Linked DNA regions of Homo sapiens. The protein of the gene in region 5 purifies or fractionates together with the protein of the main gene of each other region. This does not show direct contact. Each region holds a gene or a part of one and is shown on either strand. Other genes may lie near its edges. The genes, in order: UBR7, TKT, ASAH1, ZER1, GOLGA4, HIP1R and THOC5.

Region 1 (3,500 bases), on a different chromosome or scaffold from region 5:
CAGGAGTTCGAGACCAGCCTGGCCAACATGGTGAAACCCCTTCTCTACTAAAAATAGAAGAATTAGCTAGGCATGCTGGTGCATGCCTGTAATCCCAGCTACTTGGGAGGCTGAGGCAGGAGAATTGCCTGAACCCAGGAGGCATAGGTTACAGTGAGCAGAGATTGTGCCACTGCACTCCAGCCTGGGCAACAGAGCAAGATTCCGTCTTGAAAAAACAAAAAAACCCAATGAATGAGAACTACACATAGATAGGTTCAGCATCTGTGGACAGTGAGAGAGATCACTGGAAAGGGTGTGAACAGAAAGGGAGCAGCACTTAAGAACTCTGAGGCAAACTGGCCGGGCGTGGTGGCTCATGCCTGTAATCCCAGCACTTTGGGAGACCGAGGCGGGTGGATCACTTGACATCAGGAGTTTGAGACCAGCCTGGCCAACATGGTAAAAGCCTTGTCTCTACTAAAAATACAAAAATTTGCCAGGTGTGGTGGCATGTGCCTGTAGTCCCAGCTACTCTGGAAGCCGCGTCACAAGAATCGCTTGAACCCAGGAGGCAAGGTTGAGGTGAGCCGAGATAGCACCACTGTACTCCAGCCTGGATAACACAGTGAGACTCTGTCTCAAAAAAAAAAAAAAGGCAGAAAAACAAAAGAACTCTAAGGCAAATCTAAACTGTAGGATGAGATCAGAGGTATGGCTATGCTGCTCATGGTTTGTATGGTGAACTGGTCTCTAAAGATGAGAAAGGCAAGAAATTATGAAGCCTAAGCAGCAGATACCATGAGTAACTGCCACCTTAAAAATAAAGAAATACATAAAGCATTACCAATAAGATAGTTAATGCCTCAGGACCATTCATTAATTAGTTGTTTTGATTTAATTTCTTAGTGTATAATAAAAGCACCAGATAGACTGGGCATGGTGGCTCATGCCTGTAATCCCAGCAGTCTGGGAAGCCAAGATGAGTGGATCACTTGAGCTCAGGAGTTCAAGACCAGCCTGGGCAACATGGTGAAACACTGTCTCTACAGAAAATACAAAATTAGCAGGGCATGGTAGTGTGTGCCTGTAGTCCACTTTTATAAAGGCACTAATCCCATTCACGAGGGCTCTGACTTATAAAAGAGGCCCAAGCGAGCTTGTTTGCCCCTTTTAACAGGTACGGACACGTAGAAGGATCTGTCTATGAGGAATGGGCCCTCAACCAAACACTGACTCTGCGGGCACCTGAATTTTGGACTTCCCAGTCTCCAGAACTGTGAGAAATATCTGTCTATTGTTTATAAATTACCCAGCCTAAGGTATTTTGTTTTAGCACCCCAGACAGACTAAGACACCACCTCCTCCCCAACTGATACCATGTGTTAGAATTAACAACTTATTTCAGTTCTATTTATCTTTCAAAATCCCATTCAAAAACTGCCTCCTCCATTCTCTAACTCTGGTCTCATCAATACTCTGCATCATATCATTTAAGTATAAATTTGTTTTTGGTAGTATCCCAACAAATCTATGCACCTTGTGGAGAAAGAACACATACTATTCTTTTTTTTTTTTTTTTTTTTTGAGGATGGAGTCTTGTTCTATTGCCCAGGCTGGACTGCAGTGACGTGATCTCGGCTCACTGCAACCTCTGCCTCCTGGGTTCAAGTGATTCTCCTGCCTCAGCCTCTGGAGTAGCTGGGATTACAGGCAAGCGCCGTGACGCCAGGCTAATTTTCATATTTTTAGTAGAGATGGGGTTTCGCCATGTTGGCCAGGCTGGTCTCGAACTCCTGACCTCAGGTGATCCATCTGTCTTGTTGGCCTCCCAAAGTGCTGGGATTACAGGCGTGAGCCACCATGCCTGGCCAGAACATATACTATTTTATAACCACAGAGCCCAGTTAAAAATAGTTGCTAAAAATTCTGAATTGAACATACAAATTTCACAAGCACAAGTTTGTGGCACACCAACTTCACAAAGATACCTACCTGCCAATTGTGCAGCATAAGCCCACAAAAAAGAACAACGTTTCATGCAGGCCTGGCATACCATCTCCTGAAAATCCCCACTCTCAGGGGGAATGGCACCAAGATGCTGTGAATATAGAACACCAAAAATTTTCTTGTGATTGCCAAATTGTCCAAAATGCCCATTATTTTATAAATACTGTAATAATACACTGATCATATCATTAGAATTTATTTTTAGAAGACTAATTATAATGTAAAATATAACCTTTATCTTTTTGTGACAACAATGGTTTCAAAAGGTGGAACATTTTCCTTACCCTTCCATGGAACCAGTCTTCACAGACTACGCACTGGATCATCTCATCTGGAATCTAACAGAGAAAAGCAGTTTGTTAAGGATTACATTGAATTCGGGAACATGGAAATAACCTGGCACACAGTAAAATAAGATACTAAATATTTGTTCTACATGAACTGGTGTTCCAAAGGCTTACATTGAGATAAGCACTTTACAAACAATCTCAAGGCTCTTTCACATCCATTACTTAATATCTGATTCTCACAAAACTGTGTAGACAAGGAGGGCATTCCCATTTTATACAAAACTCAGGCCCAGGCAAGTAATGTGAATGGACCAGTGCAGACAGTGACAACTGGGACTTTTTACCACACCATCCTTTAATACAATATTCAGTTGTATTACTGTATAAGGATGTTCACTCCAGCCTTCTTTATAATATTGAAAAATTAGACAATGCCTTTCTGCTGCAGAAGAACCATCCTGCCAAGTACACTGAAAAGTAAATGTTATGAAAAACCTCGATAGATAACTCCTCTAATTTGAATAAATTAAATAATTAAATGCTGGCCCTAGGAAAATAATATACCAAAGGACATAGACTATTTTGGGGATGATTTTCTTTTACTCCCAGGCTCTCATAACTGTTAATTAACATCCCAATGTTGTTCTGTCCTTTTCCTATCGTAGGCTTCTTAAAGGGAATAAAAAAGCACATATTGTGGAACAGGAGGAGCTGTAACACTTTACCACATGCCTTAAAATATCCAGTTTTGGCTGGGCGTGGTGGCTCACGCCTATAATCCCAGCACTTTGGAAGGCCAAGGTGGGTGGATCGCCTGAGGTCAGAAGTTTAAGACTAGCCTGGCCAACATGCTGAAATCCTGTCTCTACTAAAAATACACAAATTAGCCGGGCATGGTGGCGAGTGCCTGTAATCCCAGCTACTCAGGAGGCTGAGGCAGAAGAATCGCTTGGACCTGGGAGGCAGAGGTTGCAGTGAGCTGAGATCGCACTACTGTACTCCAGCCTGGGTGACAGAGCGAAACTCCGTCTTAAAAAAAAGAAAAAAAAAATCCAGTTTTAAGGTTTTATTTTTGTTAACTCAAAGAGACTTTCAATCTGTCCCTCTATATAATTTGGTTCAATAATTATAGTTCCAACGCAATTAGAAAGCAAGGAAGAAGGCAGAAGACTAATATCTCTAAAGACAAAAAGTACTCTTTCAAATCGGTAAATACCCAGA
Region 2 (3,500 bases), about 16 Mb from region 5:
GTGCTGGGATTACAGGTGTGAGCCACTGTGCCCGGCCTGTTTGTGTTTCCTGTAGAATGTGTGGAACATGTGAGTACATTTCACTGTATGTTCCTACTGGTGAAGTTGCTGGGAGTTAAGGGATGTGCATCTTCGGCTACTGATCTGGTTTATTTTTAATGCTTGAAAGATTACTTAGGTTCTCTATTTCTTCTTGAGTCAGTTTTGGTAAATTATTTTCATTATTGTTATTATTTTTTAGACAGAGTCTCACTCTGTTGCCCAGGCTGGAGTGCAGTAGCATGATCTCGGCTCATTGCAACCCACGCCTCCGGGGTTCAAGCTATTCTCCTGCCTCAGCCTCCCAAGTAGCTGGGATTATAGGCATGTGCCACCACGCCCGGCTAATTTTTGTATTTTTAGTAGAGACGGGGTTTCACCATGTTGGCCAGGCTGGTCTTTGAGCCGCTGACCTCAGGTGATCTGCCTGCCTTGGCCTCCCAAAGTGCTGGAATTACGGGTGTGAGCTACCGCGCCCAACCTGACATCCATTATCTCTTGAAGGAGCCCATCTGGAGGGTGAGGGAGCCTCTCTGGCCTTTTCTTGCATAGAAACCTGTGAGCAGGTGGAGTGAGCACTAAAGCGATGACAGAGATTCTCCTGGCCAGGGGACATCTGGAAGAATATATATTGTCCTGGAGGGGAGTGGAGAGGGGGCTTTTTTTTTTTTTTTTTTGAGATGGAGTGTTACTCTTGTTGCCAAGGCTGGAGTGCAATGGTGCAATCTTGGCTCACTGCAACCTCTGGCTCCCAGGTTCAAGTGATTCTCCTGCCTCAGCTTCCCGAGTAGCTGGGATTACAGGCGTCCACCACCACACCTGGCTAATTTTTTGGTATTTTTAGTAGAGATGGGGTTTTACCATATTGGCCAGGCTGGTCTTAAACTCCTGACCTCAGGTGATCCGCCTGCCTTGACCTCCCAAAGTGCTGGGATTACAGGTGTGAGCCACTGCCCCCAGCCTGGAGGGGGCTTTAAGAGACTTTCTTTGGGCCTAGCTCTAAGCTTGCCACACCACCGTCACAGGTTGAACTAATTGGGGTTGTAAGTGGACTGTTTTGGTCAAGGCAGGGTGTGTTAGTTTTTTTTTTTTTTTTTTGAACAGTCAAGTGTGCTTGTTAGCCCTGTTTATCACAGAGTCAGGGTATACAGTAAGTACCCTGTAGCCCCTCCACCGTGCTCCTCACCCCATCTCTCGCCAGTGTTCACCCAGAGTTGTCACACACAGCACCACGGGATGGGGCGTCCACCTGCAGTTGTGCAGGCAGTCTGGAATGGCAGGAAAAACTCTGGCCCTGAGGAGGCCACAGGCTTAAATGTATGCCTTTGGCCCCAAAGGCCCGCTAGGAAGTTGAGCTTGAAAGTAACTGTCTCCTGTGTGCTCAGTGCTTTACAGTGTGCAGAGCCCGGTCTCAATCCTTGGTGTATTTCTCCCCTCTTGCCTGCCTGTGGCCAGCAGGAGTGGGTGGTGTCACCATCCCTGCCTGTAGATAAGAGCTGCAGGTGCTGAGAGGGTTGGCAGTGGTGGCGGCTGCTAGAGACCTGGGTACTGTGCATGCTGCGTTATCTCACTGTGTCTCCCAGACACTCTCCCAAGTGAAGAAGCTGAGCCCCGGGTTGACGAAGCACTTGTTGAAGTCACGAAGCCCAAGTGGCACAGCTCACCTCCCCAACCCAGGATGCTCTGCCGAGGGAGAGCCCCAAAAGCTCTGGGGAAGAGTGCGGGGACACCTGGCTCCTAAGCGTTCTTCTTTTGTGCGTGTTTACTTGGTAGAAGTGAAGAGAGTGGCCGCAGCAGGCTGGATGCAGCCTTTGGAAGGAATGAAAGGCTGCAGGCCTAGCAAGGAAGGCTTAAAATCAGCTGCACGTTCTACTTCTCACCCTTGGTCACCTCGCAGCTGACCTTCCTCTCTCCACGTTTACTCTATCTGGGCCTGGGTGTGCTTCTGCCACACACAGAAAGAGCCTGTGCCACACCATTTCTCCCTGGAACCCCTTCTGGTGGCCAATGGGACTGTCACCCCGGGGTGTCGAGGTGGATGGGGCAGGTGGAGCCCTGCACTTACCGTCCTTGTTCTTCCCCGGAACAGTTTGGCCCAGTGTCCACCCACATCCTTCTCCCACCAAGGATCCCTCCTAATGGGACCATGGCTTTAGAAACAGGACCCCTCAGGGCCGGGGCTGCCCTTGGAGGTGGGAAGGACGAGAGGTCAGCCTGAGGTGACCTCCAGTTGAAGCTGGCCCTGGGAGCGTGGGATTAGGGTGGCCTCCAGTTGAAGCTGGCACTGGGAGCGTGGGATTAGGGTCCCTGCCAGGCAGAAAAGGGTTTCTCGTTTACCATGTCCTCCCCTCCCTCTTTCAGGTGTAGTGTCTTTTCCCATGACCGGGAGTTCATAGAAATAGTTAAGTATAAGATGATCGTGTGCGAGAATGTTGGTACTAAACCAGCATGGACAGTTTTCTGGATTTCTCTACTACTAACTTGTCTGCACTGAGCGTGACTCACCCCTAACCTGGTGGGAGCGCTGATTGGAGGGGCGGGAGGCTGGCGGCGTGAGCTCCAGATGGTGCATGTGCCCTTGGGCTTGGCATGCGGCGTGTCTTCGTGTGAAGGACCTCTGGGAGCAGCGAGAGGGCTGAGCTGAGCTGAGCTGAGCTGCATGTGGAGGGGCCCTCCCGGGAGGCCTGTGCCCTGAGGCTGAACTTTTAACAAAACCCTGGGACCAGAGGGCTTCAGGGCTGATCAGGACCTGCAGCGCTTCCTGCTGGGAAGCAGGAAGCAATAGAAAGTTTACGCTTTCTATTGCTCAGGAGCCGCTCAGTGATTAAAACAAGTCTAAAAAGCCAAGGGGACTCCGTGGCCCCACCACTCCCAGGCTGGAAGGCAGGTTCTTGCTTTGTCAGCCCTTCCTCAGCCCTTGTCCATAGGCAGAAGGGGTTTTTATTAATACATGATTGTAGCCTTGTAGGAGATGAGATTATGTGTCTTGCTTTGAAAATTCTACACAAAAGCCTGTTTCCTAGTTGCTACAGCAGCCCTCAAACTGCCCATTTCTAAAGCTTTCAAGTAGCCCAGTGATGCAATTGGAAAGCCCAAGGCCCAGTTTTTCAGGCTACCACACCCCATGCGTGGAGGCTGCTGGGAGGTCTGTGGTAACTCCATGAGCCTCAGTCCCTTCCTCCCTGCCCCATGGGCTCAGAGGCCCAGCACCCCTGGGTGCTGAGAGGGCAGGGTGCCCTTCACAAGTGGGCAGTGTCCGGGCAGTCCTGTCAGGATGTGGGGTCAGTCGTAGGAATGCCGGCACCCCTTGGCTGCTGAGTCCTTAGACTCCTGGGGGCCACTAGGTGGGAACTGGGTTCTACCTGACAGCAGCTGCCCCCAGCCGCAGTGCTAGCCTTGGGCTGAGTCTTCTGTGCTAGATCTCTCCTGGGCCCCTCCTTCCTTCTTACTCAAGTCCAACC
Region 3 (2,308 bases), on a different chromosome or scaffold from region 5:
TCATATAAAATTAGCTAAAGTCTCACCAAATAACTAAAGCAAACAACTTCAACAGGATCACTGTTTCAGGTAATGAATATAAACAGGCTCAGGAAAGAATCTCCAGCTCCTTATAGGAGCTTATTCCTGACAGCACATTGCTCCACCCCCAATGCTTTAAGACTGCCTTAACCCTCCTTGACGCACAGCTGGCAGTCCTGGGAGACCTGCCGGTGTCCTATGGAGTAAAAACCGTGGAGCTTTGGCTATCCCTATCCTTAAAGCATTTCCAATACAGTGGGGGAAACTGCAGGCACCCAGATCACAAGGCACACACCCAAACACAAGTCACGAGATTGTGACTTGCTCAAAGATGGTATAGGCAAAACGCAAGTATGGCAGGGCCCGTGAACTGAAGGCAGGCTTCCTGTGAGAGCCAGGGTGACCTGGATGCTAAAGGCCGGAGGGATTTGTCCTGGCAGGGTAAAGGCGGCATGTTTACTTTAGGGAGAGCTGTGGAGAAGGACCAAGAAAAGAAGGAACAAATGGGAAAATTAGGGGGGCATATTCAGAACGTTCAGGGAATGATTGTTAGCGAGTGGTGGGATGATAGGAAACTTTTTGCATTTTTTTAAAACTACAGTGTAGGGAAAAGATAAACAGATGTAGTAAAGTTTAAGGGAAACCCGAACCCACCAAGACACAGAGCTCTGTCTGAAAATGGACTGCAGACTTTGTTTTGTTGACATTTAGGTGTTAGTTATATAGTGTGAGATTTTTAATAGATACCAATAAGAGTAAAATGCTAGCCTTAATTCAAATGCTATGTAAATAAAGCTATAAACAATATTCTGACCTATCAAGCCTCAGTGATCAATTTCTTTCTTGTATTCCAAAATACAGTTTTAGCCACACAAAAACATTTTTTAATAAAAAATCAGTCCTAAGCTGAACACACCTTTTGTGCTCAAACTGATCAAAGATAACAGAGAAAGATAAAACATAGGGCCAAATTCTTTCCCTAAAAGGCAAATATACATATAACATTTAAAATACCTTGTTGAGGACAGGTTTTGTTGACAGGACATCATACATGGTTTCAAATGAGATATTCTAAAACACAAGAAAATAGTTTTGTTCAGTAAGTTAAATACAGAAGCCAACAGCCTTATCTACACACATGGGCCACCAGAAACCAAGACATTCTTTAATCAACCTCCCCTCCATCCCCGCAGTGGAGTTTCTGTGGGAGTCACTGTTAGAAACACAGGTAACAGTTTTAATGGATTACTTTCCTCTCTCTCCTTCCCCTTTTTTAAATTCTTGCCTGTTTGTTATTCAACTTCAGAGTGGTATCCAGCATTAGAACCAGAAAAGGAAAGTACAGCACAATTTTGCTCTTTAAGTTAAGAAAACGAAACAAAAAAATCAGTGGAGAGTGGCTAGAGATACTATGAAAAATAGGACGTTTATAAATTACTTGAAGGCCAAAGAAAAATGCCAGAACCAAGGGAATCTTTAATGGCAACAGTTTCTTTCTATAGATGACCCTGCAAAGGTACCTCTTGGCTGGTGCGGTTCAGACACATCTTTGCAGGCGTTCTGCGATCATCAAGGAAGAAGGGATGTTTCCAACGGTCATAATTTGTTTGTACCACATACCATCTACCCTGCTTAGCATCGAGTCTAGATACAAAAGGAGAGATTCCCTCTTAGGCTACATGCCTTAAAACTCAAAGTATATCAGTGTATGCTTTTGTTTCTACTTCTTTTGCTTTAACAAACCTACTTACTCATATACATCCAATGATTCCTTTCTGTCTCGTGTAATCACACAACCTTCCCCAGACTGGTTGCCTCCCAGGATAAAGTAGGCTGGGGCCAATATCTTGGTCTTGGTCAATAAATTCTTGGCTTCTTCATAACTATATAGAAACATTTAAAAAGAAAAATGAAACTTTTTTTTAATTTTAGTAAATAACTTCATTTATTTTTAAATTTTACTTTAAGTTCTGGGACACATGTGCTGAACGTGCAGGTTTGTTACATAGGTACACACGTGCCATGGTGGTTTGCTGCACCCATCAACCCATCATCTAAGTTTCAAGCCCTACATGCATTAGGTATTTGTCCTAATGCTCTCCCTCCCCTTTCACCCCACCCCCTGACAGGCCCTGGTGCGTGATGTTCCCCTCCCTGTGTTCACGTGTTCTCTTTGTTCAGCTCTCACTTATGAGTGAGAACATGCAGTGTTCGGTTTTCTGTTCCTGTGTTAGTTTGCTGAGGATGATGGTGGGAAACATTTTTAGATGACTTAGAACGGAAATGT
Region 4 (3,500 bases), on a different chromosome or scaffold from region 5:
CTGCTTAGTTGTGTATGCGTCAGTATCTTCATCAGAAAATGGGGTAATAATCTCTATCTTGCAGTACTAGAGTAAGGGAATTCCAGCCACAGCAAACCTTTGTTCTATTAAACACCAGGCATAAATTGGGCACCGAAGTCAGACACCAAGGATACAGGTGCGTGCGCGCTTGCGCACGTGTGTGTGTGTGTGTGTGTGTGTGTGTGTGTGTGTGTACATGTGCATGGATGCAGGCATGCAAGCAAGCATACAGCTTCTGTCCTCCCAGAGCTCACAGGCAGTAGGAGGGTGTCAGTTGACAAATTGTTATGTAAATGATTAATTAGTTGCAAGTACAGGGTACTAGGAAATATTTTGTCGGTTGAGTAAGAGACTCGAGGGAGTAAAGCCTGTAAGGAGCTTAGGACCACATCTGGAAGCAGCCAACATGGACGTGGTATGGCGGTGCCTTCTGCTGCTGCTGCTGCTGGTGCTGTTTTTCTCTCTCTTCTCTCCCACTTCCTTCATTCCCCAGGATGTCGAATGTTCATGATAGACCTAGTATTAGAGAACATGCAAGAAAAGGGATGGAGAAAGACACAGGGTTCTCCCAGTGTGGTGGTCGGTCATAACCAGAGCTCCCTCTGTCCTCAGTTGCTGGAATTCCAGATGGCCTGTGACTGCCCTGAGAATGACAATCCCTAAGGAATGGAGTAGGTAGAGTGGAGTAGGTAGAGATGGCTGCCTCTGGCAGGTGCCAGGCCCGCAGCTGGATGGGTCTCAGGGCATGGTAGCCCCGGGGCCCTTCAGTCTCTGTGCCAGGATGTAAGATGGCTGCTTCCTCTTCCAGCTCATTCCAGCCCTGAGTGGCAAGGTCAACACTGCTAAGGGGAGGCTAGCAGATGGCGCCATCTACCTGGCTTATGTTTTGGGGGCTTTTGGTGACCGTGACAACTGACGTGGTGGTGTTTCTTCCACTTGGGGAGCATGGTAAGGGCAGAGCAGCTGCCTAGGTAACTGGGCTCAGACCTGCAGAAAAGGCAAAACCCCAGTGGCTCTCCCTCATTCAGAGCCTCCGAGCCAAGAGGCATCATTTGCAGCCACTGGGCGCCCAGCAGTGTCCTGAGTGCAGCAAGCAGGGAGAATGCGAGAGTGTACTATACCTCCCAGGCCTCGTGCAGACCTCTGATGGCGAGTACTTTGTCATTCCTTCCACAGGCCTTTGTTGAAACCTCACCTTGTGGCAGGCCCCACATTGAGTGTTCAGTGCTTCCTTTGTTCATTTAGCAAATAGTCATGGACCTGGGCCCGTAGTGCCAACGTCCCATGCACCCCCTCTCCTTGCAGCTTAGGTACTTCTTTGCTTCCTCCCAAAGCGCCTTCCCCTTCTCTCCCCTCCACCAGAGTTAACTAGGACTTATCTTTTGGGTCCCAGCTGAAATGTCACTTCTTTTTTTTTTTTTGATGGAGTTTTGCTCTTATTGCCCAGGCTAGAGTGCAATGGTGTGATCTTGGCTCACTGCAACCTCCGCCTCCCGGGTTCAAGCAATTCTCCTGCCTCAGCCTCCCGAGTAGCTGGGATTACAGGCGTGCGCCACCAGCCCAGCTTATTTTTGTATTTTTAGTAGAGACGGAGTTTCACCATGTTGGCCAGGCTGGTCTCGAACTCCTGACCTCAGGTGATCCACCTACCTCAGTCTCCCAAAGTTTTGGGATTACAGGTGTGAGCCACTGCACCTGGCCTGAAATGTCACTTCTAAGGATACCTGCTCTGACTCCCCAGTCCAGGGCAAGTCCCCTGATTGGGCATCCAGAGCCCCAGGCCCCTTCTCCTGCAAGACACTGGTCCCAGTTACGCGACAGGCGCTTATGGGCCCTGTAGGTGGATCTGTCTCCCTCCGGAGCCAGTACGCTCCATGTGGTCAAGGACCTTGTCCGGCTCGCTCACCAAGGACCCCCAGTGCTCAGCAGGGACTGAGTGAGCAGGTCCAGGGAGGTGATACCAAACAAGACAGCCTGGTTTTGCCCTCATGGACCTGGCCATCCATCAAGGATGCTGAATCATCAAAGCCACATCGTACCAAGTGTTCATTGCTGTGGTAGATCGGGCCTGTGGGGGGACTCAGCAGGCACACCCTGGTGGGTTAAGCATGGCTTCCCAGAGGAAGTAACTTTGACACTGGGACCATAGGTATCAGCTACGTGAAAGGAGAGTTCAAAGATCATGTGGGCTGGAGTGGCCAGGAGATACTTCCTGGAGGAAGGACATGGAGTGTATTTGGGTAGGGGAGGGGAGAAGGCAGTATTTAAATTAGAAAGTGCAGTAATTAGTTGAATTTGGATGGTCCTGGTTGAAAGAGAACAGACTGGGCAAAGGTCTGAAGGTGACCTGTGCCGAGGGCCTTTTGCCAGGACAGTGAATGATGAGGCCAGGCTGGCTGGAGTAGGGGGGCAGTGGGGACCAAGTAGGCCAGAAAGCTGGCTGTAATTCCGGTGGGCTTGAAAAGAGTTGCTTTCCAAGAGTGGGGACTCTCTGCCAGCAGTGCTCCCTCTGGTTCCAGTTTCCCAGGCAAGAGAGGCTGCTGGGCTCTTAAAGATCTTGAAGCAAATGAAGGCAAAGGAAGGCCATGCCCGGGGCCCAGGCATCCTGGCTTTTGTGCCTTCCCTCGAGGGTGCCATGCTGCCAGTGGGACAGCTGACACAATGAGCCTTGTTGTGGGAGACCCAGGCCGGGGAGCACAGGCCCGGAGCTGGGAGCCAGGGCAGATGAGGTAGGAGAAGGTAATGATTATAACAACAACATAATAACGGTTGTCTTTATTGAGCAATGACTACATGCCAGACACCGTTCTAAGCCCTTTTGATATTATTCCATGGAATCTTCACACCGTGCTGGGGATGAGGTATTGTGCTGCTTCTATTTTAGAGGAAAAGTGACTGAGGCACAGAGAGGTGGAGACACTTGCCCAAGTTTGTCTCCTCGTGAGCAGCAAGGCTGAAATGTGAGCTATGCCTGCCTGAATCCACAGCCCATCCACACACAGTCCCCAGTAGACAGTGGTGCCACAGTTGAACTCAGAACTGGCTGATTCCAAAGCCCAGTGTGCCCTGTGGCTTCCCGCTGGATTTCCTGAGCAGTCTGGAAGGTTTACAAATGGGCACAGAGGGAGGCTCCCAGAAGCTGGGACAATGCTGGGCCCCAGAACTCCAGAACCCTCTAAGTCAGGGGTGTCCAATCTTTTAGCTTCCCTGGGCCACACTGGAAAAGGAACTGTCTTGGGCGACACGTAAAATACACCAACACTAACAACAGCAGATGAGCTAAAAAAAAAAAAAAGTCCATAAATGTCATAATGTTTTAAGAAAGTTTACAAATTTGTGTTGGGCTGCATTCAAAGCTGTCCTGGGCCACATGCAGCCCATGGACCACAGGTTGGACAAGCTTGCTCTAAGAGATGTGAGGGATTCCACGAGACCAGGTTCCAGTCTAGTTTACACAGCTCCCTCTGTTTGACCTTGAG
Region 5 (3,500 bases):
GTCTTCAATAAATTATTTTTCTGCTTACCTAGATTGACTTTTTGTTGCTTACAACCAAGAACTCCAACACCTTCTAAAAGATGAACCAGAAAAATCAATACAACAGATGAAATTAGCTATGTGCAGAAGTCACCTTAAGGGATGACATATCCTCTCCCACCAAAGACAAAACAGGAAGAATAAGGACTTAAAAACATGAACAAGAGTAGTGTTGTGCGCCTGTAATCCCAGGTACTCAGGAGGCTGAGGCAGGAGAATTGCTTCAACTGCAGAGGTTGCAGTGAGCCAAGATTGCACCACTACACTCCAGCCTGGGTGACAGAGCAAGACTCCGTCTCAAAAAAAAAAGCATATAAACAAGAAAATCAATCAATGTGAAATAAAGTTGAAGCCTTAGCAATGGTTTAAATGTCTAGAAAATATGTGACTAAAAGTCAACATTGTACTTAGAAAATGGCAAGGGAAAGCACAGTCACTGTGTAGTATTAGTCTCAGTCTTGGAATAAGTTTGAGCCTACCTTGAACACCACGTTCAAATTACAAATGTTCAAAGAACATCAGAAATAGCTTTCATTAAAGTTGAGATAAATTCAATAAACCCTTCCCACACCTAGAGCCATAATTTGCAAACCATGCCAGTGCCAGCTTCAAAGGCTGTAGGTGCCTCAAAGGCTGCCACTATGGGGGCAGCCTTTTGTATCTATGTATTTATAAATGATTATATCTAAGAACTCCTTTAATAAAATGGTCACTGGGTGGTAAAAAGTTAGAAAAGTACTACTAGACCACAGGAAATACCTCTTGACTAATCAACTCTCTCTGTTGTGATTCTATCATGTCTAAGAAATCTCTGGGTTATTAATTCAGCTTTCCAAATATCCAGATGCCAGGAAAGGGCTACCTTAGACAGTGACCTTCCAACTGCTTAAAAAGTATACCTCACTGCAAATCTGAAAAATTGGCATTACGTCTTACACCTTGGCCTCATATGGTCTAATCAGTAACTGAGAGCCTCATCAGCTCTGGAGAAACTGACAAAAAAATCAAATAACGGGGTTTACAAAGTTTAACAGATTCTAAAACATACTCTCCCTAGAAAAGTAGTACTATCTGGCAAAACGTGGCCTGATGACTTGTTGATCTTCCTCTGGATCTTCCTCTGGAGTTACAAGAGTAAGAATTATATGAGAAAATGGATGTGAGTATAAAGTATATAACAGTGCATAAAGAACTAACTGTACTTCAGCATTTGTCCCAGGTGCCTGGTTCCTTAATGGGCTATCCTCACTTCAAGATATAAAGGGATTTAGGTTCCTTCAAACCAAACTTGAGCTGATTAATTGCAATAGCCATAAGAAATCTGAGTCAGCTTTCTAAGCTGTTAACCAAAAAACCTGACAGCTACATCCAGACCCACAATTAATATTTTATTGCCCACTGCCTAATTATTAACTGACCACAGTTATACTCAATTTCAGTGTAAGAAAAACCATTTTAGCTGTGCACAGTGGCTCATGCCTGTAATCCCAACACTTTGAGAGGCCAAGGCAAGACGATCACTTGAGGCCAGGAGTTCAAGACTGCCTGAGTAACACAGTAAGACCCTGACTCTACAAAAACTTAAGAAAAACCATTTTAGTCATTGTGATAAGCAAAACTGTAAGATGACCCCAAATGACCCCTGCCCTGTGAATATAATGAGCTATCACTCTCATAATTGTTATATTACAGGGCAAAGGGATTTTAAAGGCATATTTAAGGTTACTAGGTTACTAATCAGTTGACCATGAGTTCATCAAAAGATTACCTGGATGGGTCTAAACTAATTACATAAGCCCTTCAAATATGGGTCTAGAGGGCAGAGGGACGTACTTCTGCTGTCCTGAAAGAAAGCAAAATGCCTACAGGGGCACGTGGCAAGGAGCTGCTGGTAGCCTCTAAGCCGAAAGTGGTCAGCAAGAAATGAAGGCCCCAGTCCTATAACCAGAAAGGACTGAATTCTACCACAACCACATGGGCATACAAAAAGATCCTGAGCTCCAGATGAGAAAGCAGCTTGGACAACATATTGATTTTAGCCTTGCAAGACCCTGAGCAGAGAACCCAGTCATGCCATGCCAGACTTCTGACCTACAGAACTATAAAATAATAACTGGGTTATTAGGCACTAAGGTTGTGGTAACTTGTTATGCAATATTAGAAAACTAATCCAGTCATCCTTAGGAATAAGCCTTGAATCCCTTGTCCCTATACCATGACTTTTCATTATCCATCAAGGCTCTACTCAGATGTCACCCTGATCTTCTCCAGAAATGCCTTATTTTGCACAACTACAACACCCTGTATATATCACTATTACACTGAAAGTACTTGTCTCTCAACTCCATTGTGTAGGGACTACATAGACCCTTCAAAGCAAATGCAACATCCAGCAGAGGACCTAGGCATTCACTGTTCATAACTAACATCTGGTTCATTTCACTCTCCCTACAACACCTATGGATTAGTCACAGCAGAGACACAGCCATTGAATCCTCATCACAGCACTGTTGTAAGTCACTGCCAAATCAATTTGACATCCCAGTTCTAAAAGAGCAGTCAAAGTAACTTGGGGTTAATTCTTCAAATAAACCTTTATATTTTAGGTACCAAACTTATTAAAGCCTTTCATCATGTTCTTAATAAACTACCTTCTGATCTAAATGTTTTCTCTGGGACTCATGCTTTCCCCAATTTCAAGACTGAAACTATTTAGTAAACTTGGATTTACAATAAGGCTATGTCCCTTCAGAAAGGACTCTTTTCCCTGTTATCTGTGGAACTGTTTGCTGGTTTTTTTGTTTTTATTTTTTAAATTTATATCACATAAACTATTATTTTGGGGTCTCACTCTAAAAGAGTGAGGTCAGCTGCCATCTCTGAGCTGAGGGAAAAAAATAAGGGATGATTCTGCAGGCATAAGGAGGGGCGTATATGTTGATTTTTTAAAAATATACATAACATAAAATTTACCATTTTAAACATTTGTAGCTGTACAATTCAGTGGCATGAACTACATTCACACTGTTGTGGAATCACCACCATCCATCACCAGTACGTTTTCATCTTTCCAAACTAAAACTCTGTACCCACTACACAGTAACTCCCCATTCTCTCCTCTCTCCAGCCTTTGGCAACAACCATTCTATTTTGTCTCTAAGAATTTGACTACTCTAGGTACCTCAATTAAGTGGAGTCATGTATTCATCCTTTTGTATCTATACTTCTATAATTTTTAAGTTTTAGAAGTACTTGAAAAGGCTAAAAATGTTTTAAAATATTTGTATTCATGTACTACATATATCCCAAGAAATTACAATGTCTGTATTACTTCTTGATGTTTCTTTTATTGACTTAGTTCTTTAAGGAGTTTAAAAATCCAAAATAGGTATTTGTTGTTAAAACATATTTTTTTTTTTTTTTTTGAGACGGAGTCTCGCTCTGTCTCCCAGGCTGGAGTG
Region 6 (4,005 bases), on a different chromosome or scaffold from region 5:
AGGAGGAGCTGGGGGCCGTGGTCGACAAGGAGATGGCGGCCACATCCGCAGCCATTGAAGATGCTGTGCGGAGGATTGAGGTGAGCACGGGATCTGGGGACTCCCCTCATTCCTGTGGAGCTTTGGGGGCCGGAGGCCCCAACTGGGCTGGGTACAGGCTGCACCCACTCCTGCTCTCAGCCTCCAGACAGAGGACAGATGGCGTTTTCCAGGGGCCTGTGAGGTCAGAGCTGAGAGGGCAGGAGGCAGCCCTGGCTTTCCCAGGACCACGGTCCCCTCCTCCCAGCCAGCTCACGGCTCTGTTCTTGGGTGCAGGACATGATGAACCAGGCACGCCACGCCAGCTCGGGGGTGAAGCTGGAGGTGAACGAGAGGTGAGCCCCCCTTCTGTCCCCCCAGGCCCAGCCGAGGTGGGCTCCCCGTGGCCCCTAAGGTTCTGCCCCCAACTGTTCTGCTCACGGGAAAGGAAGGCCTGGCTCAGAGCAGACACTCCCTCCCCACCTGCTGAGCCCTGATGTGGCCAGGCCCGCCATGGCGTCGTGTGGGCTGCTCTGCAGAGCGGCAGCTAAGTCTCTCCTTCTCTCCCCCAGGATCCTCAACTCCTGCACAGACCTGATGAAGGTGAGGGGCTGTGACCCGGGGGGGTCTGCACCTGGAGGGCCACCAGTCATTGCTGTCTTGGTCTCGGCAGGCTATCCGGCTCCTGGTGACGACATCCACTAGCCTGCAGAAGGAGATCGTGGAGAGCGGCAGGGTGAGGGGCCGGCGGCAGCAGGGCACAGTCCACAAGGAGCCTGACCCCCAGCCTAGGCCACCCTGGGCATGAGACCCTCCACCCCCTACCACAGGGAGGCCTCAGGGATGCGCCCTATGGCCAGAGTGAGGGGGAGAGGGCCCTTGAGGGCCACTTTCCACCTTTGGTGTCCTTGACTGGCATGTCCTGCCCTGTTCTCCCGTCGCCACTAGGGGGCAGCCACGCAGCAGGAATTTTACGCCAAGAACTCGCGCTGGACCGAAGGCCTCATCTCGGCCTCCAAGGCTGTGGGCTGGGGAGCCACACAGCTGGTGTAGGTTGCCCTGGGTGGGGGGGGGCAGGGGGCTGCTTCCTGCCAGTTGGAGCAGTTTGGGGTTCAACAGGGTGCAGGGAGTAGAGGGGGTGTGGAGTGGTGCCAGCCGTCCGTGGGGTCAGAGACCCTGGCCCTGACTGGCCCTTGACCCGCAGGGAGGCAGCTGACAAGGTGGTGCTTCACACGGGCAAGTATGAGGAGCTCATCGTCTGCTCCCACGAGATCGCAGCCAGCACGGCCCAGCTGGTGGCGGCCTCCAAGGTGAGCTTGCACGCCGACAGCAGCACACTGGGCTCTGGGCCCAGCTTGGCCTGGGCTGTGGCTGCCAAGCCCAGGCCTGCTGCTGCCCTGAGCTGGGAGACCTGGGCCCACCCTGACCTCTCGCCCCTCAGGTGAAGGCCAACAAGCACAGCCCCCACCTGAGCCGCCTGCAGGAATGTTCTCGCACAGTCAATGAGAGGGCTGCCAATGTGGTGGCCTCCACCAAGTCAGGCCAGGAGCAGATTGAGGACAGAGGTGAGTGCCAGATGCCAACGGGGGCTGCTGGCTCCCGAGGCTGAATGGGGGTGGGTGCCCAGATGTTCACCCCCTTGTCCTCCGGCCACAGACACCATGGATTTCTCCGGCCTGTCCCTCATCAAGCTGAAGAAGCAGGAGATGGAGACCCAGGTAGGCGCCCATGGCTGCCCCGTGACCTCTGAGCTCATCCCTCGGGCGAAGCCTGGACCCAGGAGAGAGCTCCCTGGGGAGGCTGGGCTGGGCTGAGCAGGCCGTGTGGCTACAGGTGCGTGTCCTGGAGCTGGAGAAGACGCTGGAGGCTGAACGCATGCGGCTGGGGGAGTTGCGGAAGCAACACTACGTGCTGGCTGGGGCATCAGGCAGCCCTGGAGAGGAGGTGGCCATCCGGCCCAGCACTGCCCCCCGAAGTGTAACCACCAAGAAACCACCCCTGGCCCAGAAGCCCAGCGTGGCCCCCAGACAGGACCACCAGGTGCCGTCTGCACTGGGATGGGGGAGTTCCTGGACGGGGGTGCTGTCCCCAGCCCTAGAGGGGCACATGGTGCACGTCCCTGGGGAAGTCAGGGACCACTGACAACATGCAGGGAGGAGCTTGCTCAAGGGAGAGGTGGGGCCCCAGGTGCCTGGCTGTGACCACTGACCCCCCACCTTTAACCCCTGCAGCTTGACAAAAAGGATGGCATCTACCCAGCTCAACTCGTGAACTACTAGGCCCCCCAGGGGTCCAGCAGGGTGGCTGGTGACAGGCCTGGGCCTCTGCAACTGCCCTGACAGGACCGAGAGGCCTTGCCCCTCCACCTGGTGCCCAAGCCTCCCGCCCCACCGTCTGGATCAATGTCCTCAAGGCCCCTGGCCCTTACTGAGCCTGCAGGGTCCTGGGCCATGTGGGTGGTGCTTCTGGATGTGAGTCTCTTATTTATCTGCAGAAGGAACTTTGGGGTGCAGCCAGGACCCGGTAGGCCTGAGCCTCAACTCTTCAGAAAATAGTGTTTTTAATATTCCTCTTCAGAAAATAGTGTTTTTAATATTCCGAGCTAGAGCTCTTCTTCCTACGTTTGTAGTCAGCACACTGGGAAACCGGGCCAGCGTGGGGCTCCCTGCCTTCTGGACTCCTGAAGGTCGTGGATGGATGGAAGGCACACAGCCCGTGCCGGCTGATGGGACGAGGGTCAGGCATCCTGTCTGTGGCCTTCTGGGGCACCGATTCTACCAGGCCCTCCAGCTGCGTGGTCTCCGCAGACCAGGCTCTGTGTGGGCTAGAGGAATGTCGCCCATTACTCCTCAGGCCTGGCCCTCGGGCCTCCGTGATGGGAGCCCCCCAGGAGGGGTCAGATGCTGGAAGGGGCCGCTTTCTGGGGAGTGAGGTGAGACATAGCGGCCCGGGCGCTGCCTTCACTCCTGGAGTGAGTTTCCATTTCCAGCTGGAATCTGCAGCCACCCCCATTTCCTGTTTTCCATTCCCCCGTTCTGGCCGCGCCCCACTGCCCACCTGAAGGGGTGGTTTCCAGCCCTCCGGAGAGTGGGCTTGGCCCTAGGCCCTCCAGCTCAGCCAGAAAAAGCCCAGAAACCCAGGTGCTGGACCAGGGCCCTCAGGGAGGGGACCCTGCGGCTAGAGTGGGCTAGGCCCTGGCTTTGCCCGTCAGATTTGAACGAATGTGTGTCCCTTGAGCCCAAGGAGAGCGGCAGGAGGGGTGGGACCAGGCTGGGAGGACAGAGCCAGCAGCTGCCATGCCCTCCTGCTCCCCCCACCCCAGCCCTAGCCCTTTAGCCTTTCACCCTGTGCTCTGGAAAGGCTACCAAATACTGGCCAAGGTCAGGAGGAGCAAAAATGAGCCAGCACCAGCGCCTTGGCTTTGTGTTAGCATTTCCTCCTGAAGTGTTCTGTTGGCAATAAAATGCACTTTGACTGTTTGTTGTCACTGATGCCCCAGAGGGAGGGGCTGTGCCTGGCTCTTCATTCCTCCAGGGACACGTGTTCCCTTGTCGGCCCTGGCCAGGTGCTGGGGCGGGGACCTATTCATGTCTGCATTTAATGCTAGAGTACTTGGGACTGCAGAAAAGCTCAGCAGGGCTGTCACTGGCTGTGTGTGTGTCCGCCTTCCATCTCTCTCTCGGGGGATTTATGGGCCTCAGGGCCCTCCTTTTACACAGGAGGCCAAGAGCCAGCTGCCTCCACAGAGGCCACTTGCACTCCCAGCCTCAATGCCCACAGCTTCCCTGGGGCTCCTAGCAGTTGCTGACCCCCTCAGTGTGTCTGAGACCATGCCTGACTGACAGTTGCTAAGCTAAGGTGGGGACCCTGACTCCCGGCTGGCTTGGACTTGAGCCATGGCCACACACAGCCTTTGCACTTACCGGAAACCTGGAAAGGTGTTCAGTCCCTGGGTGTGTGGCAGCCTCACAAGCACCCACTTTACCC
Region 7 (3,500 bases), on a different chromosome or scaffold from region 5:
GTGCTGGGATTACAGGCGTGAGCCACCACGCCCGGCCACTAAGGTTTTTTTAATCCCTTACTTTTTATCAAAATTTTATAACAAAGATTTGACTGGTTGAGAAGTTTTTTTGTTTTGGTGTTATATTTTTATGACTATAAATAGCCTTTCCTTTTATGTTCATCATTTTTACCAAGTTCAGTTGTCTTAGCCATATGTTGCAGATATAAATTTTGCCAAGAAGGTGATTCCTTCATCAGGTTTTGTCAATTAATAACCTTCATCGTGGGCAGTTTTAGTTCTGTTTTATTTATTTACTAATAGATTGAATCAATCTATTAGTAATAGTCCCTAAACACTTGCTAAAAGACTGAAAAGTTTTATTTTATTTTATTTTATTTTATTTTATTTATTTTTTTGAGACAGAGTCTCGCTCTGTCACCCAGGCTAGAGTGCAGTGGTGCAATCTTGGCTTATTGCCAGCTCCGTCTCCCGGGTTCACACCATTCTCCTGCCTCAGCCTCCCAAGTAGCTGGGACTATAGGCGCCCGCCACCATGCCCAGCTAATTTTTTTTTTTTTTTTGTATTTTTAGCAGAGACGGGGTTTCACCGTGTTAGCCAGGATGGTCTCGATCTCCTGACCTCATGATCCGCCCGTCTCGGCCTCTCAAAGTGCTGGGATTACAGGCGTGAGCCACTGTGCCTGGCCTGAAATGTTTTATTTGTTTGGTAGTCAGTTCTCCATTTGAGGTGGTGAAGGGGGCAAAGACCTTGGGGAACAGGGATACTCAGTGAGACACAGTAGGGAAGAGCTGGAAGCCTCCACTGTCCTAGCATGGAGTTCCTGAAGGCATGCTGGGGCCAAAACGCAGGACCGGCACGTGCTGCCCAAGTTGCTCCTGACGTTATCCATGGAAAGATGAAGGAGAACCCCCTTTGGTTCAGGGAAAGAATGGGCCTTGTCATCCTTTGTGATAAAATTACTACATTACCCTCCCACATTATCTCTTTTTTGCTTGTCACATTTAATGACAAACTGTGCCCGAACCATCCCAGGTGGGTGGCAGTGGCGTCACTATTTCTCTCCGCTTGTAGCTGTGGGTCTCCAGTGTATGTGATTGTATCTTTTTCTGGGAACATACAGGGGGCCTTTTCCTGTGATGAGCATAAGATTTGGTCAAAGTGAGATAGACATAGCACCAAAGCTATACACTTGTTCTCTCTGTAGCAGAAAGGAGTCTGTTCTGCTTTTATGAAAATTGAAATTATTTCTACTGATGGTGTCATGGGACTTTGCTCCCCTGAGGTAAGGCCTTAGGCACCATATAAATCTTGAAGGGATGAGTTTTTTAAAAATTAATGATTAAGAGTACTAGTCTGTTTGATCAGACAATATAAAGCCACCTCTAGCACTTACTAGCAGTGTGATCTTGAATAAGCCATATCTTTTAAAGCCTTGAGTTTTTCCTCTATAAAATGGAAATGATAATCCTCCCTCATAGGGTTGTAAGGATGCAATGACCTCAAGCATATAAACGGTCTGGCCCACAGAAAGCCTTCAATAAATGGTGGCATTGGTCATCAGTGAGACGTGGCATTACCATCCCCAAATGCCCAAGCCTATGTTGAAGAAAGATGTTGGCTGCATTCTCACTGCTTACTGTTTTTCCTTTTCTAGTGACTTGCTGTCTCCTGACTCAGTCCTGAGTTGCTTGTATCCTGGGGATCATGGAAAGAAAACTCCGAATCCAGCCAATCAGTATCAGTTTGATAAAGTTGGGTGAGTCAGCAGTTTCCTCCTCTCCGAGCTCTCTACTTCTGAGTTTCTCTGGTGGCTCAAGCTAAATGCTGGAGACCTGTTAGGGCCAGAGGTGACCCAGAGGATAGGAAAGACCACAGGGTAGAAGGAAATGTTTGTTCTTTCTTGCTTACAAGGCAAAGGGAGATCACAAAAAGGGTGGAAGGATCAAAACTCGGAAACATGCTGGGTGTGGTGGCTCACGCCTGTAATCCCAGCACTTTGGAAGGCCAAAGCAGGTGGATTCCTTGAGCTCAGGAGTTCGATACCAGCCTGGGCAACATGGCAAAACCCTGTCTCTACAAGAAATACAAAAATTAGCCAGGCATGGTGGTGGGCATTTGTAGTCCCAGCTACTGGGGAGGTTGAGGTGGGAGAATTGCATGAGCCCAGGAGGTTGAGGCTGCAGTGAGCCATGGTCATGTCGCTGTACTCCAGCCTGGGGGCAACAGAGCCAGACCCTGTCTCAAAACAAAAACAAAAAGAAAAACAAAAAAAACCCTCTGGAAGCATAATAATACGTGATACAATAAAAATGTTTGACATTTTAATTATCCGAGGATTAATTTTTAAAAGATTTTCTAAATTGGTAGACCAATAAAGACATTAGTACACTGCCTTTGTATTTGATATTTGCTTATAAGTTGAAGGCTGCAAGAAGAAAAGGAAAAAGAGGAAAGTGAATGTGAGAGAGATGAAATTCACAGTAGGGAACTGACAAAGTTGAAGGGCTTTGCCAGCAGCCTGGCTGTGAACATGGCCAAACCTGCAGGACTGGATGGTTTGTGGGGCATGGGAGGGTGGGAGGAGGCTGTATCCTGGGACCACAGCAGAAATGACTTACAGCACAATTTTATTTATCTTCTTTTCTGCAGCATCCTGACTTTGAGCGACTATGTACTTGAGCTAGGTCACCCCTATTTGTGGGTGCAGAAGCTGGGTGGCCTCCACTTCCCCAAAGAGCAGCCCCAGGTCTGTACACTGATCTCATCTAGTTGGCTGAGGAGCTTACCTCTTCTCTTCCTGTATAGACTCTAGAAAGGCCAGGCCAGGTGCGGTGGCTCATGCCTATAATCCTTGTACTTTGGGAGGCTGAGGCAGGTGGATCACCTGAGGTCAGGAGTTTGAGACCAGCCTGGCCAACATGATGAAACCCCATCTCTACTAAAAATACAAAAAATTAGCTGGGTGTGGTGGCACGTTCCTATAATCCCAGCTATTCAGGAGGCTGAGGCAGGAGAATCACTTGAACCAGGGAGGCAGAGGTTGCGGTGAGCTGAGATCATGCCACTGCACTCCAGCCTGGGCAACAAGAGCAAAACTCCGTCTCAAAAAAAAAAAAAAAGGCCTGTCATGGCCTTTGGAGTTTTGAACTGGCAGAATGTGTCCCCTCAGGGCTGTGACCTGTCTTCTATCCACTCAGGACACTAAAATGTCTTAGACTTACAAGAGTTTACGTACCTTTTGCATTTTCTCTGAGCCTAGTAGCCTTTTAGACCCAGGCAACTTGAGTCCTTGCTCTGGGACTCATGTCTGCAGGCTCTGCTGCCCTTGTTCTTGTGTGCAAGTACCAAATATGAGGCATGAGCAGAAATCCAGGGGGCCTGGCCCCTTAGCAGAAGCCTGCCTTTCCTCAGGAGTTGGACACAGCTTCTCAAGAACGCAGCATATTGTGTTGTTTCTGCCAGGACTCAGCGTCTGGCCTGTCATAGCAGATAAACC

The links.
Region 1: the proteins of GOLGA4 (region 5) and UBR7 purify together in Homo sapiens (affinity purification with mass spectrometry; 2 studies listed by BioGRID and IntAct, with this or other methods). This does not show direct contact.
Region 2: the proteins of GOLGA4 (region 5) and TKT purify together in Homo sapiens (affinity purification with mass spectrometry; one large-scale study listed by BioGRID and IntAct). This does not show direct contact.
Region 3: the proteins of GOLGA4 (region 5) and ASAH1 fractionate together in Homo sapiens (co-fractionation; one large-scale study listed by BioGRID). This does not show direct contact.
Region 4: the proteins of GOLGA4 (region 5) and ZER1 purify together in Homo sapiens (affinity purification with mass spectrometry; 3 studies listed by BioGRID and IntAct, with this or other methods). This does not show direct contact.
Region 6: the proteins of GOLGA4 (region 5) and HIP1R fractionate together in Homo sapiens (co-fractionation; one large-scale study listed by BioGRID). This does not show direct contact.
Region 7: the proteins of GOLGA4 (region 5) and THOC5 fractionate together in Homo sapiens (co-fractionation; one large-scale study listed by BioGRID). This does not show direct contact.

The regions. Positions count from the first base shown.
Region 1 is NC_000014.9:93,213,756-93,217,255, reverse strand, and holds part of UBR7 (putative E3 ubiquitin-protein ligase UBR7), read right to left. Parts: intron 2,328-3,500; coding exon 2,274-2,327; intron 2,081-2,273; coding exon 1,975-2,080; intron 1-1,974. UniProt on the Homo sapiens protein: E3 ubiquitin-protein ligase which is a component of the N-end rule pathway. Recognizes and binds to proteins bearing specific N-terminal residues that are destabilizing according to the N-end rule, leading to their ubiquitination and subsequent degradation.
Region 2 is NC_000003.12:53,242,523-53,246,022, reverse strand, and holds part of TKT (transketolase), read left to right. Parts: intron 1-3,500. UniProt on the Homo sapiens protein: Catalyzes the transfer of a two-carbon ketol group from a ketose donor to an aldose acceptor, via a covalent intermediate with the cofactor thiamine pyrophosphate.
Region 3 is NC_000008.11:18,057,800-18,060,107, forward strand, and holds part of ASAH1 (acid ceramidase isoform a preproprotein), read right to left. Parts: intron 1,905-2,308; coding exon 1,773-1,904; intron 1,666-1,772; coding exon 1,542-1,665; intron 1,093-1,541; coding exon 1,036-1,092; intron 1-1,035. UniProt on the Homo sapiens protein: Lysosomal ceramidase that hydrolyzes sphingolipid ceramides into sphingosine and free fatty acids at acidic pH.
Region 4 is NC_000009.12:128,761,928-128,765,427, reverse strand, and holds part of ZER1 (protein zer-1 homolog), read left to right. Parts: intron 1-3,500. UniProt on the Homo sapiens protein: Serves as substrate adapter subunit in the E3 ubiquitin ligase complex ZYG11B-CUL2-Elongin BC. Acts to target substrates bearing N-terminal degrons for proteasomal degradation with the first four residues of substrates being the key recognition elements.
Region 5 is NC_000003.12:37,246,271-37,249,770, reverse strand, and holds part of GOLGA4 (golgin subfamily A member 4), read right to left. Parts: intron 74-3,500; exon of another isoform or gene 29-73; intron 1-28. UniProt on the Homo sapiens protein: Involved in vesicular trafficking at the Golgi apparatus level. May play a role in delivery of transport vesicles containing GPI-linked proteins from the trans-Golgi network through its interaction with MACF1. Involved in endosome-to-Golgi trafficking.
Region 6 is NC_000012.12:122,859,457-122,863,461, forward strand, and holds the end of HIP1R (huntingtin-interacting protein 1-related protein), read left to right. Parts: coding exon 1-80; intron 81-315; coding exon 316-374; intron 375-590; coding exon 591-621; intron 622-691; coding exon 692-754; intron 755-966; coding exon 967-1,067; intron 1,068-1,222; coding exon 1,223-1,328; intron 1,329-1,459; coding exon 1,460-1,583; intron 1,584-1,674; coding exon 1,675-1,736; intron 1,737-1,851; coding exon 1,852-2,058; intron 2,059-2,249; coding exon 2,250-2,297; 3' UTR 2,298-3,505; downstream 3,506-4,005. UniProt on the Homo sapiens protein: Component of clathrin-coated pits and vesicles, that may link the endocytic machinery to the actin cytoskeleton. Binds 3-phosphoinositides (via ENTH domain).
Region 7 is NC_000022.11:29,519,258-29,522,757, reverse strand, and holds part of THOC5 (THO complex subunit 5), read left to right. Parts: intron 1-1,658; coding exon 1,659-1,760; intron 1,761-2,653; coding exon 2,654-2,750; intron 2,751-3,500. UniProt on the Homo sapiens protein: Component of the THO subcomplex of the TREX complex which is thought to couple mRNA transcription, processing and nuclear export, and which specifically associates with spliced mRNA and not with unspliced pre-mRNA.